Linked DNA regions of Homo sapiens: region 2 is linked to region 1. Evidence: fine-mapped expression QTL. Tissue or cell type: skeletal muscle. Region 1 holds a variant in brackets; the other region holds the start of a gene. All regions are shown on one strand. Distances are between the middles of the regions.

Region 1 (8,301 bases):
GGCCCCAGTGTGTGATGTTCCCCTGCCTGTGTCCAAGTGTTCTCGTCGTTCAAGTCTCACCTATGAGTGAGAACATGCAGTGTTTGGTTTTTTGTCCTTGCGATAGTTTGCTGAGAATGATGGTTTTCAGCTTCATCCATGTCCCTACAAAGGACATGAACTCATTTTTAATGGCTGCATAGTATTCCATGGTGTATATGTGCCACATTTTCTTAATCCAGTCTATCATTGTTGGACATTTGGGTTGCTTCCAAGTCTTTGCTATTGTGAGTAGTGCCGCAATAAACATATGTGTGCATGTGTCTTTATACCAGCATGATTTATATTCCTTTGGGTATATACCCAGTAATGGGATGGCTGGGTCAAATGGTATTTCTAGTTCTAGATCCCTGAGGAATCGCCACACTGTCTTCTACAATGGTTGAACTAGTTTACAGTCCCACAAAGAGTGTAAAAGTGTTCCAATTTCTCTACATCTTCTCCAGCACCTGTTGTTTCCTGACTTTTTAATGATTGCCATTCTAACTGGTGTGAGATGATATCTCATTGTGGTTTTGATTTGCATTTCTCTGATGGCCAGTGATGATGAGCATTTTTTCATGTGTCTGTTCGCTGCATAAATGTCTTCTTTGGAGAAGTGTCTGTTCATATCCTTTGCCCACTTTTTGATGGGGTTGTTTTTTTCTTGTAAATTTGTTTGAGTTCGTTGTAGATTCTGGATATTAGCCCTTTGTCAGATGAGTAGATTGCAAAAATTTTCTCCCATTCTGTAGGTTGTCTGTTCACTCTGGTGGTAGTTTCTTTTGCTGTGCAGAAGCTCTTTAGTTTAATTAGATCCCATTTGTCAATTTTGGCTTTTGTTGCCATTGCTTGTGGTGTTTTAGACATGAAGTCCTTGCCCATGCCTATGTCCTGAATGGTATTGACTAGGTTTTCTTCTAGGGTTTTTATGGTTTTAGGTCTAACATTTAAGTCTTTAATCCATCTTCTCCCTCTCTTTTAAATAGAAACAGGGTCTCACTCTCTTGTCCAGGCTGGAGCACAGTGGCATGACCATAGCTCACTGCAGCCTCGAACTCAAAGAACTCCCAGCCTCTACTGATCCTTCCACCTCAGCCTCCCAAGTAGCTGCACCACCATGTCCAGCTATTTTTTTTTTTTTTTAACTTGTAGAGACAGGGTTGTGACTTGTTGTTCAGGCTGGTCTTAAACTCCTGAGCTCAAGCAATCTTCCCACCTTGGCCTTTCAAAGTGCTGGGAATACGAGTGTGAGCCACCGCGCTGGGACTCATTTAATTTTATAAAGAACATATATTCTACCACCCTATTCTACTGTCAGAATTTTATTAAAATTACCTGTGTTCTTTTCATACCATAGATTAGACCTAAAATGGATTCCCACTTCACCCCCTACTGCTGCTTTGATTCCTGTTTCCCTGCACATACAGTGGGCCACACCTGCAAAAATCACAAGGCTGACTTCAGGAATCAGTTTTGATCTTCGCTGTTGTACCTTAAAATTTTTTTTAACTTTTATTTTAGATTCAGGGAGTACATGTACAGGTTTGTTACATGGATATATTGCATGATACTGAGGTTTGGGGTACAAATGATCCTGTCACCCAGATGGTGAGCATGGTACCCACTAGGTAGTTTTTTAGCCCTTACCCCACTCCATCCCTCCCCCCAGTAGTCCCCATTGTCTATTGTTCCCATCTTTATGTCCATGTGTACCCATGTAGTACCCTTATTAACTGTGTTGTGGAGCTTACACATGAGAAAGGCACTTTCTTGGATTCGTGTACATGGCTCAAGAGAAAATGGTTAGAACTGATAGAGACCCTGCCAGGCCGGTAGCTCATGCCTGTAATCCCAGCACTTTGGGAGGGCGAAGGCGGGTTAATCACTTGAGGTCGGGAGTTTGAGAACTGATAGAGACCTTAATTACCTGGTCGCTGTTTTTTCAACTGGGATTCCAGGAAGGAATCTCTGGTTAGATCCCACAGTATTCACAACTGATCCTTCCTGCTGTTGACTGATGGGAGCAAAGCTCCACCCAGATTACCTATCTCAATTAGGTTCTTTGAAACTCAGGCCACGTTAGGGATAAAAACAATGGAATTCTATCTGTACAAGTGACTGTTACTCTAGTATAGGGCAATCCCATTTCTCCTTTAAATATCATCTCTTTTTTAAAAATTTTTAGAGTTGGGGGTACATGTGCAGGTTACCTGGGTATATTGTGTGATGCTGAGGTCTGGGGTATAAATGACCCTGCCACCCACGTACTGAGCACGATACCCACTGGTTACTTTTTCAATCCTTGCCCCCTTTTATGTTTTCATTGACTCTTATGTTTTGGTCTTTGAAGATTGCTTAACTGATTTTCTCCCAGAAGTCAGCTTTAAAATCCCATTCCAGAAGCTTACTGACAATTTATAAGGCCAGAAAAGTAAAAAGCAAGCATATAGATTGGAAAGAACAAAACATAACTGGCCCCATTTGCAGATGATATTATTTCTACATAGAAAATCTAAAGGAATTTACAAACAAGAATATCACACACACACATCCAGTGAAGCAGTTAAGTTTAAATCTAATACATTTACCGGAGCTAAAAATTACAAAACAATGATTAAAACTGATGAACTCAAAGAAGACCTACATAAGACACATACTGTGTTTATGGAGTGGAAGGCTTAGTATAGTAAAGACTTCCATTCTTCCACAATGAAATAAAGGCTTAATGCAATTTCTATGAAAATTTAAGCAGGGCTTTTGAAAACACAGACAGGCTGATCCAAAATTTATATGGAAGAGCAAAGAAAGTGGAATAGATAAATAAATTTTGAAAATGAATAATAGGTCAGGTGTGGTGGCTCACGCCTGTAATTCCAGCATTTTGGGAGACCAAGGCCAGAGGATTCCTTGAACTCAAGAGTTTGAGACCAGCCTGGGCAACATGGCAAAACCATCTCTACTCAAAATACAAAAATTAGCTGAGTGTGCTGACACACACGTCTAGTCTCAGCTACTTGGCTTGGAGAATCATCTGATTCTGCAGTGAGCTATGACTAGAACCATTGCACTCCAGCCTGGGTGACAGGAGTGAGACCCTGCCTCAAAAAAAAAAAAGAAAAAGAAAAAGTAAAAAAATGAGAGCAATCAGTATACAGCTATAGTAATCAAGACAGTGTGGCATTGATAGAGGGATAGATGCATAGATTTTTGGAAAAGAGCATTCAGAAACACAGAAGTAGGCCAAGCAATTCAATGGAGAAACAATATTTTTTTTCAACAAATAGCACTGTAACAAGTAGACATCCAAAAAATGAACCTTGACCTAAATTTTATTCCTTATAAAAAGTTAACTCAAAATGTATCATAGACTAATTTTCACATTCAGCTTTAAAATTTTTGTGTCTGCAATAAACTGAAAACAAAACTATTTTTAGAATGCAAGTAACTGACAAAGGATTTGTGTCCAGAATATATTGTAACACACACAAAAAAGAAAAAAATCCATTATGAAAAAACTATAGAGATAGAGAATAGACTAGTAATTGCCAGGGGTTAGGGATGGGGAGTGAGGAGGACAGGAAGATGGGTGTGACTATAAATGGATAGAACAAGGGACCTTTGTGGTGCTGTCAGTTTTATAGATTGACTATGGGGAGTGGCAGTTACACTAATCTGTGCATGAGATAAAACTGTATAGAACTGTACAGACACATACACAAGTGCCTATAAAACTGGTAATGTTTGTGGATTGTACCAATGTCAAATTTGATTCTGTACTGTTATATAAGGTGTTACCATTAGGAGAAACGAGGTGTGGGGTACAAGGACTAAATAGTACTATACAGCATTATCTGTATAACTTCCTATAAATCCATAATTGTTTCCAAGAAAAACATTTTTGAAGTTCCAGTAGAAAAAAACAGACTTAATATATGAATAGACTATTCACAGAAAATGAAATTGGAGGCAACATATTTGTTTTTTTGTTTGTTTTTTGAGATGGAGTCTCACTCTGTTGCCCAGGCTGGAATGCAGTGGCGTGATCTCAGCTCACTGCAACCTCTGCCTCCTGGGTTCAAGCAATTCTCGTGCTTCAGCCTCCCAAGTAGCTGGGATAAGAGGCACACACAACCACACCCAGCTAATTTTTGTATTTTTAGTTGAGACGGGGTTACACCATGTTGGCCAGGCTGCTCACAAACTCCTGACCTCAAGTGATCCACCTGCCTCAGCCTCCCAAAGTGCTGGGATTACAGGTGTGAGCCACCACTGCACCTGGCCACGACATAAATATTTGAAAGGCCTGAATATAAAACATCTGTGGAACAGAATGAAGTGAATTTTTCACATCCACTGGGCCCTTACCTGGCATACATAAAATCACCAGCATCTGCATCCCCATTTATTGATCCAGAAACAAAGAAAAGCTTTGTTGAGATATATAGAAATTGCTTCTACTCTAACACCAATAACTATTCTTGGCTTGATATATTAGAATGTAAACTATATTTTACAGTATGCATGAATGGTCTCTTTCCTTCACTCCAAAACCAACCCAAATGAAGGTGGATTTCTTTCCCCAAATGGATAGCCAATTATCCCAATAATAAAATAATTGTTTTGTTTCTATA[C/CTCCTT]TCAACTAGAAAAAAATTTGAGTTTAAAATTAAAAATTGGCCTCAAATAAATGCGAAAATACTGCTGATTTTATTATTCCAATTAACATGAAGAGACAGTAAACAAAATAATACCTTGTCAGGTATGTTTTGTGTAAAGACAATCTTCTATAAATGTTAGTATCTGATCAAGAATAAAAATCCATTTTAAAATTATTTCTCCAGGCCCAGGTTTCCCCCACCCATTTGATTCTTATTTTTGAGAAATTAGGAAAATAAAAGCAAGAAAAAACAATTTTAAAAACCCATATAATTAATTTGGACAACCAGATTTGTCACCACTGTCATATTTGCTTTCACTCTTTTATTAAAGAAATATTACAGATAAATATAACAACTCCCACCAAACCTTTCCCACATCCCAAAAGGCAACCAAGTCATATATGGATCCATGACCAATACACAGTACTGTTCTTTGCAAGATCTTATTAAATTATACAAATGTTATACTGTGTTCCTTTGTGCATTTTAATTTTTTCTCTCAATATTATATATTGTAATCTATCCATATAACTATAGGTAGATTTTGTTTCTAAATTCTGTATTTTATCACAGAAATGATCACACTTATTCATCTATTCCACAATTGATAAAAATTTGTTATATCCAATTTTGGGCAATACAAACCATGATTCAGGAACACAGTGATATATATCTCTTTGTGTACATTTGTGGGTGCCTGTGAGGCCAATACACCAAAATTCAACAGACTATTCCATGTTTACATGTTTTTTAAAGAAATCTTGTTACCCTAAAGTAACGGATTCTACTTTCATCATAGTTTTAAAATTTTGCTTTTTATATTCTGGTCTTTAGTTGGATTTTATTTTTGTATATGATATAAAGTAGAAAGCTAAAATTTTTCTCCTATGAACCTTCCATTTATTAAATAAGCCATTCATTCCCCAGTGATTTCAATAGCACTGTCATACACAGAATTCCTGTATCTTCTTGGATTTTTGTATGAATGCTCACTATCTTACTACTGCTTGATTTATTCACTTGGTAATACATTGTTTAAATGACAGCAGCTTTAAATAAGTACATGATATATCTAATAATAGAGTGTGTCTTCTCTACTTGCTTTGTCAAGTTTGTTTCAGCTATTTGTGTTTCTTTACTTTTCCACATAAAATTTTTGGATAAGTTTGTGAAGTTCCTTAAAATAAAACTGATGTAAACTTCAGAAGTATATTAAACTTAGTGATTTGGGAGAGAAATTATATTTTTACAATGTCAAGTCTTTTCAGACAAAATATCATTTTTCAGGTGTTCTTTTGTGCCTTTCAACATATTTTATAACTTGATAAAGACCTAACTCATTGTTGTGTTTATTCTTAGGTTTTCTATCAACACATTTTCTAATTATTTCTTGTATAAAAGTTATTTTTATAGTTCTTCGTTGATACTTGTTTTCCTTACTTAATACATTGGCTAGGAGCTCAAGTGTTGTGTTGTTATGCTGATGGAAGATACCTTGTTTCAGATTTCAATGAGAATGCTGATTAAATATTATCAATAAGATGTCTGCTGAAAGTTTCTGGTAACAGCTTTTTCATTATATAATTTGTCACCTTGGAAGAATTCTCTAATGTTTCATAAATTTGTGGCTTTTTCAGAAGGCTATCCCACATTCATAGTTTTCTACTCTGGAAGTGATCATGTAATGTGCAATGAGGTGTTAATTCCTTCAGATGGCCTTGCCATATTCACAATATTCATAGGGTTTCTAATGAGTATGAATTCTCTGGTGTCTAACAAGGTGCGACTTTTGGCTGAAAGCCTTGCCACACTCAATACAGTGATAGGGCTTCTCACCTGTATGTTTTCTCATATGAAGGGTAAGAGATGAGATTTGAGAGAAGGCTTTTCCACATTTACTACAGTCGAAGGGTTTCTCACCTGTATGTCCTCGTATATGTATAGTAAGGGATGAGCTTTGGGAGAAGGCTTTTCCACATTTATTACATTCATAGGGTTTTTCACCTGTATGGCCTCTCATGTGCACAATAAGGGAAGTTCTTTGAGAGAAGGCTTTCCCACATTCATTACATACATAGGGCTTCTCACCTGTGTGACTTCTCATATGTAAATTAAGCAGTGAGCACTGAGAGAAGGCTTTACCACATTTATCACATTCATAAGGCTTTTCCCCTGTATGACTTCTCAAATGAAGGGTAAGGGATGCAATTTGAGAGAAGGCTTTACCACATTCATTACAATCATAAGGTTTCTCTCCAGTATGAACTTTTTGATGTGTAATGAAGTTTTGCTTTTGGCTGAAGGCTTTACCACATTCATTGCATTCATAGGGTTTCTCTCCAGAATGAATTTTTTCATGAGCAATGAGATTTGATTTCTGGCTAAAGGCTTTCCCACATTCCTTACATATATAGGGTTTTTCCCCAGTATGAATTCTCTGGTGTCTAACAAGATTTGACATCTGTATAAAAGCTTTCCCACATTCATTACACTCATAAGGTTTCTCTCTAGTATGAATTTTCTGGTGTGTAATGAAGTTTTTCTTGTGGCTGAAGGCTTTTCTGCATTCCTTACATTCATAGGGTTTCTCACCAGTGTGACTTCTCATATGTACAGTAAGGGCTGAGCTTTGAGAGAAGGCTTTTCCACACTCATTACATTCATAGGGTTTTTCACCTGTATGAATTCTAACATGTATAATAAGCATGGAAAACTGAGAGAAGGCTTTACCACATTTATCACATTTATAAGGTTTTTCTCCTGTATGACTTCTCATATGAAGAGCAAGGGATGCAATTCGAGGGAAGGCTTTACCACATTCATTACATGCATAAGGTTTCTCCCCAGTATGAACTTTCTGATGTGCAATGAGGCTTTGCTTCTGGCTGAATGCTTTTCCACACTCATTACATTCATAAGGTTTCTCTCCAGTATGAATTTTTTCATGATCAATAAGATTTGATTTCTGGCTGAAGGACTTCTCACATTCCTTACATGCATAGGGCTTCTCTCCAGTATGAATTCTTTGATGTCTAATGAGATTTGACATTTTAATGAAAGCTTTACCACATTCATTACATTTGTAAGACTGCTCCCTACTGTGAATTTTATAATGTTTAATAAGTTTTTCCTTGTGACTGAAGGCTTTTCTACAGTTACTACATTCATAGGGCTTCTCTCCAGTATGAATTCTCAGATGTCTGATGAGGTCCAAAGTCTGATTGAAGCCTTTTCCACAATGATTACACTTAAAGGGGGTAATGACAAAATGGGATGAGCTATTACCATATGATTTCACAGGTTCATTATATTCACAATGCTCCTTTCTCATAAGGCATTTCACATTATTATGACAGTCAAAATTATGTTCTAAACACTTTCCAAATAAGTCATACTCATAGAGATTGTGTCTGGAAGGGAAAAAATCAGAGTTCAGAGGAAATACATTTGCAAATTTCTTTTGACATTCATTGCCTTTTTCTTCAGTCAGTGTTTTCTGGAATTTAACTTCAACTTGTCTCAAAAGTCTGTCCTGGTTTTTCTGATGCTCATCAACTCCCCATATTTCTCCTAAAACAGATTGCAAATAAATATCACTTACAAATTTTTTTCCAATATTGTAATATGA
Region 2 (8,301 bases), 140 kb after region 1:
AGAACAACCAAAACCTTGGGGTCAGAAAAAGATAGGCTGGGGGTATTGTAGGACACATCTTTGAAAATGGTCGTCCCCAGGGAGAAACAGCTAAATGGGTGCAGCTACCTGGTTTCACCGCATAGACGCAATTAATTACTCAGCATCTCACACTATAATGGGGCGCCCTGGGCATTTAGCTACACAGCGGAAAGCCACACCTGAGTGTGTGTGGCAGCCTTGGGGCGAGGTGGAGAGGGTTGTTGCAGTGGCCCTGCCGCCACAGAAGGAGAGATGTCCTTTGAGGAAACCATGGCAATGTGTGGTCTTGCGGAGAGATGGGGCTTAGGAATTGGATGCAATTGACTGAAAATGGGAAGTGGGTGGCAGGAATGGGGTTTAGGAATTGGGGGAGGAGAATCAGTTCTGGGATGTAGTGATAAAGAGGTCCAAGGAATGATTGCATGCAGATACTTGGTTTTCAATGATTCAGGAGTCCAGAGAAGGCTATAATTGGTATGGGTGTCCCAGTGGGTCAGGTATCCGAGGTCTTGGAATTTGGGAGAGTGGTAGTCTCTGGGATATGGGATGTGGGGAGTCTAAGGAGTCAATAAGGGATCTAAAGGGTTGGTGATAGGTGACTTCTTTATTGTGGTAAAATACATAAATAATACAATTTACCATTTAAATCACTTTAAAGTGTATAATTCAGTGACATTATTACACTTACGGTGTTGTGCAACCATCACTACAATCTAGTTCCAGAAATTTTTCATCACCCCAAAAAGAAACCCTGTATCCATTAAGCAGTCACTTCCCATTCTTCCCACCCCTTCCTTCCCCAAACTCCTGGCATCCACTAATCTGCTGTCTCTAGTCTCTAATGATTTACCTATTCTGGATATTTCATATAAATAGAATTACACAGTATATAGCGTATTAACAAACTGTCCTCAAAGTTCCTTCATGTTGTAACATGCCTCAGTACTTCATTCCTTTTTATGACTGAATAATATTCCATTGCATGGGTAATACCATCAGTTGGTGGACATTTGAGTTGCTTCCAATGAGAGGATTATCTGAGTATTGTGAAATGTACTGCTATGAACATTCTTGTACAAGTTTATGTTTAAACACCTTATTCAATTATTTTGGGCATATACCTAGAAGTGAAATTGCTGGATTATATGGTAATTCTATGATTAACTTATGAAGAAATAACCAAACTGTGTTTTTTTTTTACAGTGGCTGTACCTTTTTATATTACAACCAGTAATGCACAAGGGTTCCAGTTTCTTCACAACCTCGCCATCCATCATTTGTTATAATCATGTGCCACATAATGATGTTTTGGTCAATGAGGGACCACATATACAGTAGTGGTCCCATAAGATTATAGCAGAGCTGAAAATTTTCTTTTTATAAAATTGTATTTATTATTATTATTTTTTTTCCAACTTTTATGGAGCTGAAAAGTTTATACTGCCTAATGACATTTTGATGATCCTGGCACTGTGTGTACCTAGGCTAATGTGTTTGTGTCTTAGTTTTTAACAAAAAAGTCTGGAGGCTGAGGCAAGAGAATTGCTTGATCTGCCCTATTAATTGCAATTTTCACAGTTAACTAGTACTATTTTTATTTAAATAATATTACCTGGGAAGCGGAGGTTGCAGTGAGTTAAGATCACGCCACTGCACTCCAGCCTGGGCGAGAGAGTGAGACTCTGTCTCAAAATAAAATAAAATTAAATTAAAATAAAAAAATTAAAAAAATTTTTAAGTAGAAGATTATAGAATAAGGATATAAAGAAAATATTTGTGTACAGCTATACAATGTGTTTGAAGCTAATTTATTACAAGAGAGTCAAAACATTTTTAAAAATTAAAAGGTTTATAAAGAAATTATAGTAAGCTAAGGTTAATTTATTACCGACAAAAAAATTCAAATAAATTTAGTGTAGCCTAAGCATACAGTACATATAAAGTCTACAGTAGTATACAGTACTGCCCTAGCCTTCACATTCACTCACCGCTCAGTCACTGACTCACCCGGAGTAACTTCCAGTCTTGCAAGCTCCATCCACGGTAAGTGCTGTATACCGGTATACGATTTCTTATCTTTTATACCATATTTTTACTGTACCCTTTCTATGTTTAGACATGTTTAGATACACAAATACCATTGAGTATAATTGTTTACAGTATCCAGGCAATTTGGATTTGTAGCCTCGAAGTGATAGGCTGTACCATCAGGCTACATCATCTAGGTTTGTGTATGTACACTCTATAATGTTCACATAATGATGAAGTCACCTAACCATGCATTACTCAGAAAGTATCCACAGAATTACACAATGCATGACCATATTTACATTCTGCTTTTTAAAAATCTTAAATTAGGCTGGATGTGGTGGCTCACGCCTGTGATCCCAACACTTTGAGACACCAAGGCAGGCAGATCACTTGAGCCCAGGAGTTTGAGACCAGCCTGGGCAACATCGCAAAACCCCATCCCAACAAAAAAATACAAGAAATTAGCTGGGTGTGGTGATGCACACCTGTGGTCCCAGATACTCAGGAGTCTGAGGCAGGAGGATTATCTGAGCCTGGAGAGGTGGAGTCTGCAGTGAACCATAATTGCACCACAGCACTCCAGACTGTGTGACAGAATGAGACCCTGTCTCGAAAAAAATCTTAAATTTATGTATCTTAAGAATATACATTAATATAGAGTTTAAATATCAAATAAAGAGGGTTTTTTAAAGTTGAAACAATGTATCAGAGGATAAAAAACCATAAAACATTTGTTTAAATTTAAAGGATTTGTTTAATCTGCCCTATTAATTGCAATTTTCACAGTTAACTAGTACTATTTTTTATTTAAATAATAGTATGTATGTAACAGAATAGTAAAGATGTAACCTGTGGATGCTGTTTTACAGCAGCAGAAACTGGAACACATGCAGTCTCATGATTGTCCTACTCTTTTGCCAGATCATTGCATTGTCTGCCCAGGCACCCCTCATCCCATCTCTCTCCATCCCTTTTCTTACCTTTTCATGTTCCTTGTCTTTTCATGACAGCATTTATCAATGTCTGAAAGTAGAATGTTGTTGATTGACTCTCTCTTCAACTAGAACATAAGCAATGAGCGGCCCAGCCTTTGTCCCACACACTGCAGTGTGTCCCACTTCTAAGAAAGTGTCCAACACACAGCAGGAACTCAGTCAGCATTTCTTGAATGAATTAAGTGAAGTGATGCATACAGGCCACATTCTGAGCTGCTGGAGGAGCCAGTAGTTGATTACCAAACTCTAGTCCTTTATCTTGGTGTCCTGATGTCCTGACTGATACACAGTTTGTAGGCAAATAGCTGGTGGGGTTTAGTAGTATGGGATAGAATAAAGGGAGATGTAATTGGGACACTCTCCACATTATCTGCCCCCATGAAAAGCTAGTTCCAGGTGTTGCCATCTCTGCCCCACACTGGGCTTGCCTTAGTCCTCGTTCCCGCCTTTTCCAGACAGCAGTGCTGAGAAGCAGGAGCCCCTGAGCTTGGAGACGCAGGAAGAGCCCTGGGAGGCCCAGATCAAAGGGAGGCAGTCAGCTCATGGAGCCGAGGAATGTTCTGCTGACACCCACCCCGAGGGTATCCGGTATGTTTCTGTGCACCAGCGACCCCTCCACACCTCACCAGATTGGTTCCCCAGCCCCGTGGGACCCAATTCCGGGTCAATTCCAATTTGATTCCAGTCCAGAATCAAATCAGAAGAGCAATCCCGAGTGCCCACCTCACGGTCTGAAGCACCTCCTCCTACACCCGGACCCAAACACGAGGTCGGCTCAAGGAGGCACTGAGGTCACGACAGTCAGGGTCCTGCGCTGCTTGTCGCATGCAGTCTCCTTCCCCGAACCGCCGCCTGCACGGCCTCCACTGTTTTCCTATTGGGCTGCAGCCTGAGAGCCCTGACAATGCGGCCCACAAACCGGGAACGCGAAAGTGCACGTACCAGGCGCGATCACCAGGCGCTAGCGCTGAGGGGGGACTCGCGTCACAGTAACCGCCACCGTTGCCGGGGGACTGGCCCCAGCGGCTTGGCCCCCAGGCGTCTGTGGCAGTGCGTCCCCTCTCCGCGGGATCGTCGCCATGGTCCTGCGATCCTAGGAGTCGGGCAAGGCCGAACCTGCCTGAAGAAACCTCAAGCGGAGATTCAAGGAAGCACCACGTGATCCCTAAGGATCCCAAAGATGCGTCGGGCATGCATGGGCGGTGTGAGGGTGCGTCTCCCTGACAGGTGTCCCCGCTGGGATTTCGAGGTACGGCCTGCCTGTGTTCCCCGGGGCGCTCTCTTTCCGGAGGGGTTTCCTGGCAGAGAGCAGAACCGCGCAGCCTCAGGAGCTGCCTGGCTGTGTGTGTTTCTGTGCGACTGTTGGATGTTTCCGTGTGTCTTTCTGTGTGTGCGTGTGAGTGTGTGTGTGGTGTGCGGTGAAAGAAATGTGGCTCGTGCAGTGAAGCGCGGTTTCTCTGTAGTTCGCCTACGCTCTGATGCGCCCGTCTCTTTGGCCGGGCTTGGGTTGCGGGGCAAGCGTTCTTTGTTTCGCTCTTGGTTCCTAAAGCCTCGGTGAAGTGGGGGGCTGGCTGCGACCCGCAAACGTCCAAATCACCTCCCCTCCCAAGCCGCCCACTCTTCCAGAAAGAAGACCAGCACACGACAACCAAGAACAAATTCCTCCAGGGGCCCATGGTCCTGCGGCACACCCAAGGCTGGACGGACCCTAGCTGTCCTGTCCTCAGTACCCCCTTGAGCCCACTTCTAATTCGGTGGCTGGCGGAGTCGCAGCTTCAGGACCTGAGGCGGGCACTCCTTCATCCTCTTCAGATTTCATTCTGGATTAAAGGATGTGTGCAGAAAAAAGGTCAGATGGGGGTGAAGATACAATCCGCTGAGGTGTGGAGGAGGTCTCGCACCTTCACCTGCAGAACAGGTGCAGACAGATGTCAAAGAAACTGTTTCCAACGCCATCCCCTTTTCCTCTTCACTGTACAACCTGTCCACACCATGGCGCTGTGCTGGCGATAGAAGACACGAGTGTTCGGAGAACCTTTGGACCGAAGACTGTCGCCTTTCTGGCCAGGTCCCCTGTTGGACCCTGGTTCCCCGAGGCACATGGGAGTGGGATGGATTGATCCTGCCTGGGCTGCGGCCTCTACTCTGTTCTCCCTCTTTTCTTGCCTTCCCTGATTCTCGTCGGCCCAGGTTTTCCTTGGTCTGGCTCACAGTCCTCCAGAACGTCCTTCACAGCAAATGTTTCCCAGTTCGTCCAGGACCACCTTGGCGGGGACGTAGGTGATGAGTGTTTCCTTCTCAACACTCACATTTCTTAATGACTGGGTAGCTGTGATGCTCTTGGAACCGTGGGTGCCCGTAGCTTTCCCCAATAAGGAAACTCTTGGTCTCCCCATTGCATCAGATGGCTGCATGATTCACATAGAATGAGAGGTAGCCAGCCGTAGCTGGCCTTTGCCTTCTAATGAAGGCTATGTTTCATCTCATCTGCTGGTGTTTTCTCATTGTTGAGGGGTCTCCCATTGCTCTGTTCCTGGCTGGGACTGCCTCTCAGCACTGCACCTTTTCGTTGCCAGGGATTTCACGGAGCAAAAGGGACTGGGGGTTAGCTGGGTGTAGACCCGGTGGTGGGTTGTGATCCCGGTGTGGGTGCTGGATCACTTTGCAGGATCCTCTTGGCTCCTCTGGCAGGAATCCCTGGAGGAGGCTTGGACTCCGGCACAGGCCCTCCTATGGTTTCAGGTGTGCTTTGCTTGTGCTTCGCTTTCTTGGGGGTATCCTCAGTGGCCCTCGCCAGCATGCCTGGATATCCCTTTTGGGCTTGGATTCACCCCAGAAGGCCTCTGAGACACTCTCTCCACATTTTCTGCCCCCATGGGATGCCAGTTTTAGGTGTTGCCACCTCTGCTTCACATCGGGCTTGACTTTGTCCTTGTTCCCGCCTTTTCTGGACAGCAATGCTGAGAAGCCGAAGGCCCTGGTCTTGGAGACCAGGACAGGGCCCTGGGAGGCCCAGGTCGAAAGGGGGCCAGTCAGCTCATGGGGCGAGGGAATGTCCTGCTCACACCCTCCACTGGGGTCTCAGGTATGTTTTCCTACCCCAGCGACCCCTCAACTCCTCACCAGATTGGATCCCCAGCCCCATGGGACCTGATTCCTGCCCACACCCTCCAATCTAGAATCAAATCAGAGAGCAGTCCCGAGTGCCCACCTCAAGGTCTGAAGCGCCTCCTCCTCCACCCAGACCCGTACACGAAGTGGGCTGAAGGAGGCACTGAGGTCAGGACTGTCAGGGTCCTGCGCTGCTGGTCTCACGCAGCCTTCTTCCCCGGGCCGCAGCCAGCACGGCCTCCACCGTTTTCCTATGGGCCCTGAGAGCCCTGACGTTGCGGCAGCGCCAGCCGGGCACGCGAATGCGCATGCGCCAGGCGCGCGTCACCAGGCGCGACGGCTGAGCCGGGGCTCGCGTCACAGTGACAGCCACCGTTGCCTGGGGACGGGCCCTAGCGGCTTGGCGGAGCTGGAGCCCTCCCTGGCAGTGCGTCGGCGCTGGGCTATGGCCCCCTCCTCTCCGGGGGATCGTCGCCTTGGTCCCCCGACCCTAGGAGTCGGGCAGGGCAGAACCAGGCTAAAGAAACGTCCAGCGTAGCTTCAAGGATGCACCGCGTGATCCCTATCGGATCTCCCCGACGCGTCAGGCCTGCCTAGACGGTGCTGGGAGCGCGTCTCCTTGAACGTTGTCCCGCCTGGGATTGCGAGGTAGGTACCGCCTGCCTGTGTGTACCGGGGCTGCTGTCTCCGGGGAGGGGCTTCTGGCGGACAGGAGAACCAAGCAGCCTCAGGAGCTGCCTGGGTGTGTGTGTTTCTGTGCGAGTGTTGCATATCTCTGTGTGTGTTTCTGTGCAAGTGTTGCATGTCTGTGTGTGTGGGGGGGGTGGTGTCTGGTGAAAAGAATGTGTCTCGTGCGGTGGAGCGCCGTTTCTCTGTAGTCCGCGGGCTCTCTTATGCGCCCTCTTGTGGTCCCAAGTGTGCTTTTCTTGTTTTTCGCTTTCTTGGGGGTCATTGATTTCAGCTCTAAGCTTAATTCCTTTTCTGAGTCTCACCTGTTTCTTTAAGTGGGAACTTAAACCATTGATATGTATTTAAAAGCATACATTTCCCTCAAAGTGCTGCTTTAGTTGCATTCCACAAAATTTTATATGCTGTTATTTTTGACTCCAAATAGGTAATTTTTTACTTGTCCCATAGTTTACTTAAATGTGTGTTGCTTAATTTGCAAACATTTTTTAATTTTGACATTAATTTCTGGCTTAATTCTACTGTGGTTAGAAAACAGATTTTCTGATTTCAATCCTTTTCAATATATTGACAATTTATGGCTCAGAATATAAACAAGCTTGCTAAAGTTCTTTGTATAAGTGAAAACACTGCTGCTGCTCTTAGGTGGACTAGTCTATAAGTATCAATTACAACAAGTTGGCTATTAGCACCGTTCAGGTATCTTATATCTTTATAGATTTTCTATATACTTTTAAAAGTTAATGAGAGAACAGTATTAAAATCTCAAAATATGATTCTGAGTTCATTTATTTTTATTTCTAGCAGTTTTTAATGTATTGTTTAGTTCTGGTACTAGGCACAAGTACTTGTATGATTGCTTTGTCTTCTTGGTCAATACACTTCTATAGTATTATAAAATATGCCTTTTTAGAATAAATCCCTGGTAATATTCTTTGTTTCAAAGACAATTTGTTGTGAGGGCCGGGTGCAGTGGGTCATGCCTGTAATCCTAGCACTCTGGAAGGCTGAGGTGGTGGGATCACTTGGAGTCAGGAGTTTGAGACCAGCTTGGCCAACATGGTGAAACCCCATCTCTACCAAAAATACAAAATTAGCCGAGTGTGGTGGCGTGCGCCTGTAGTCCCAGCTACTCGGGAGGGTGAGGCAGGACAATGACTTGAACTCGGGAGGTAGAGGTTGCAGTGAGCCAAGATGGCACCACTGCACTCCAGCCTGGGTGACGGGGTGAGACTCTGTCTCGAACAAAAAAAGACAATTTGTTTTATGTTCACATAGCCATTTTGGTATAGTGTTTGCATGGTGTTTTTTTTTTTTTTTTAACTTTTAACCTATTTGAGTTGGTATATACTTTTGACTTTTTAATCCGAGTCTTCATATTTTAATCTTTTTTTATATAACCTAACATCTTTTTTTTTTTTTTTTTTTTTTTTTTTTTTTTTTTTTTGGAGACAGT

Evidence for each region. PIP is the estimated chance that this variant, and not a neighbour inherited with it, causes the effect.
Region 2: ZNF571-AS1 starts here. The variant in region 1 is the best candidate, but not a certain one, in a credible set for the expression of ZNF571-AS1 in skeletal muscle (GTEx, PIP 0.56).

What each region holds. Positions count from the first base shown.
Region 1 is chr19:37,406,177-37,414,477 of GRCh38, forward strand. It overlaps ZNF569 (zinc finger protein 569), which reads right to left. Exons shown (of 6, transcript NM_152484.3): 6 at 4,981-8,243. The coding sequence ends at 6,421. Among named protein-coding and RNA genes, the nearest start is that of ZNF527, 39 kb to the left of the region's middle. The variant C/CTCCTT (reference allele first, on the strand shown) is at 4,653.
Region 2 is chr19:37,544,860-37,553,160 of GRCh38, forward strand. It overlaps ZNF571-AS1 (ZNF571 antisense RNA 1), which reads left to right and starts at 4,090. Exons shown (of 6, transcript NR_038248.1): 1 at 4,090-4,296; 2 at 6,003-6,132. LOC124904708 reads right to left here and starts at 6,480. Exons shown (of 2, transcript XR_007067248.1): 1 at 3,033-6,480. It also overlaps a transcript of ZNF540 not described here.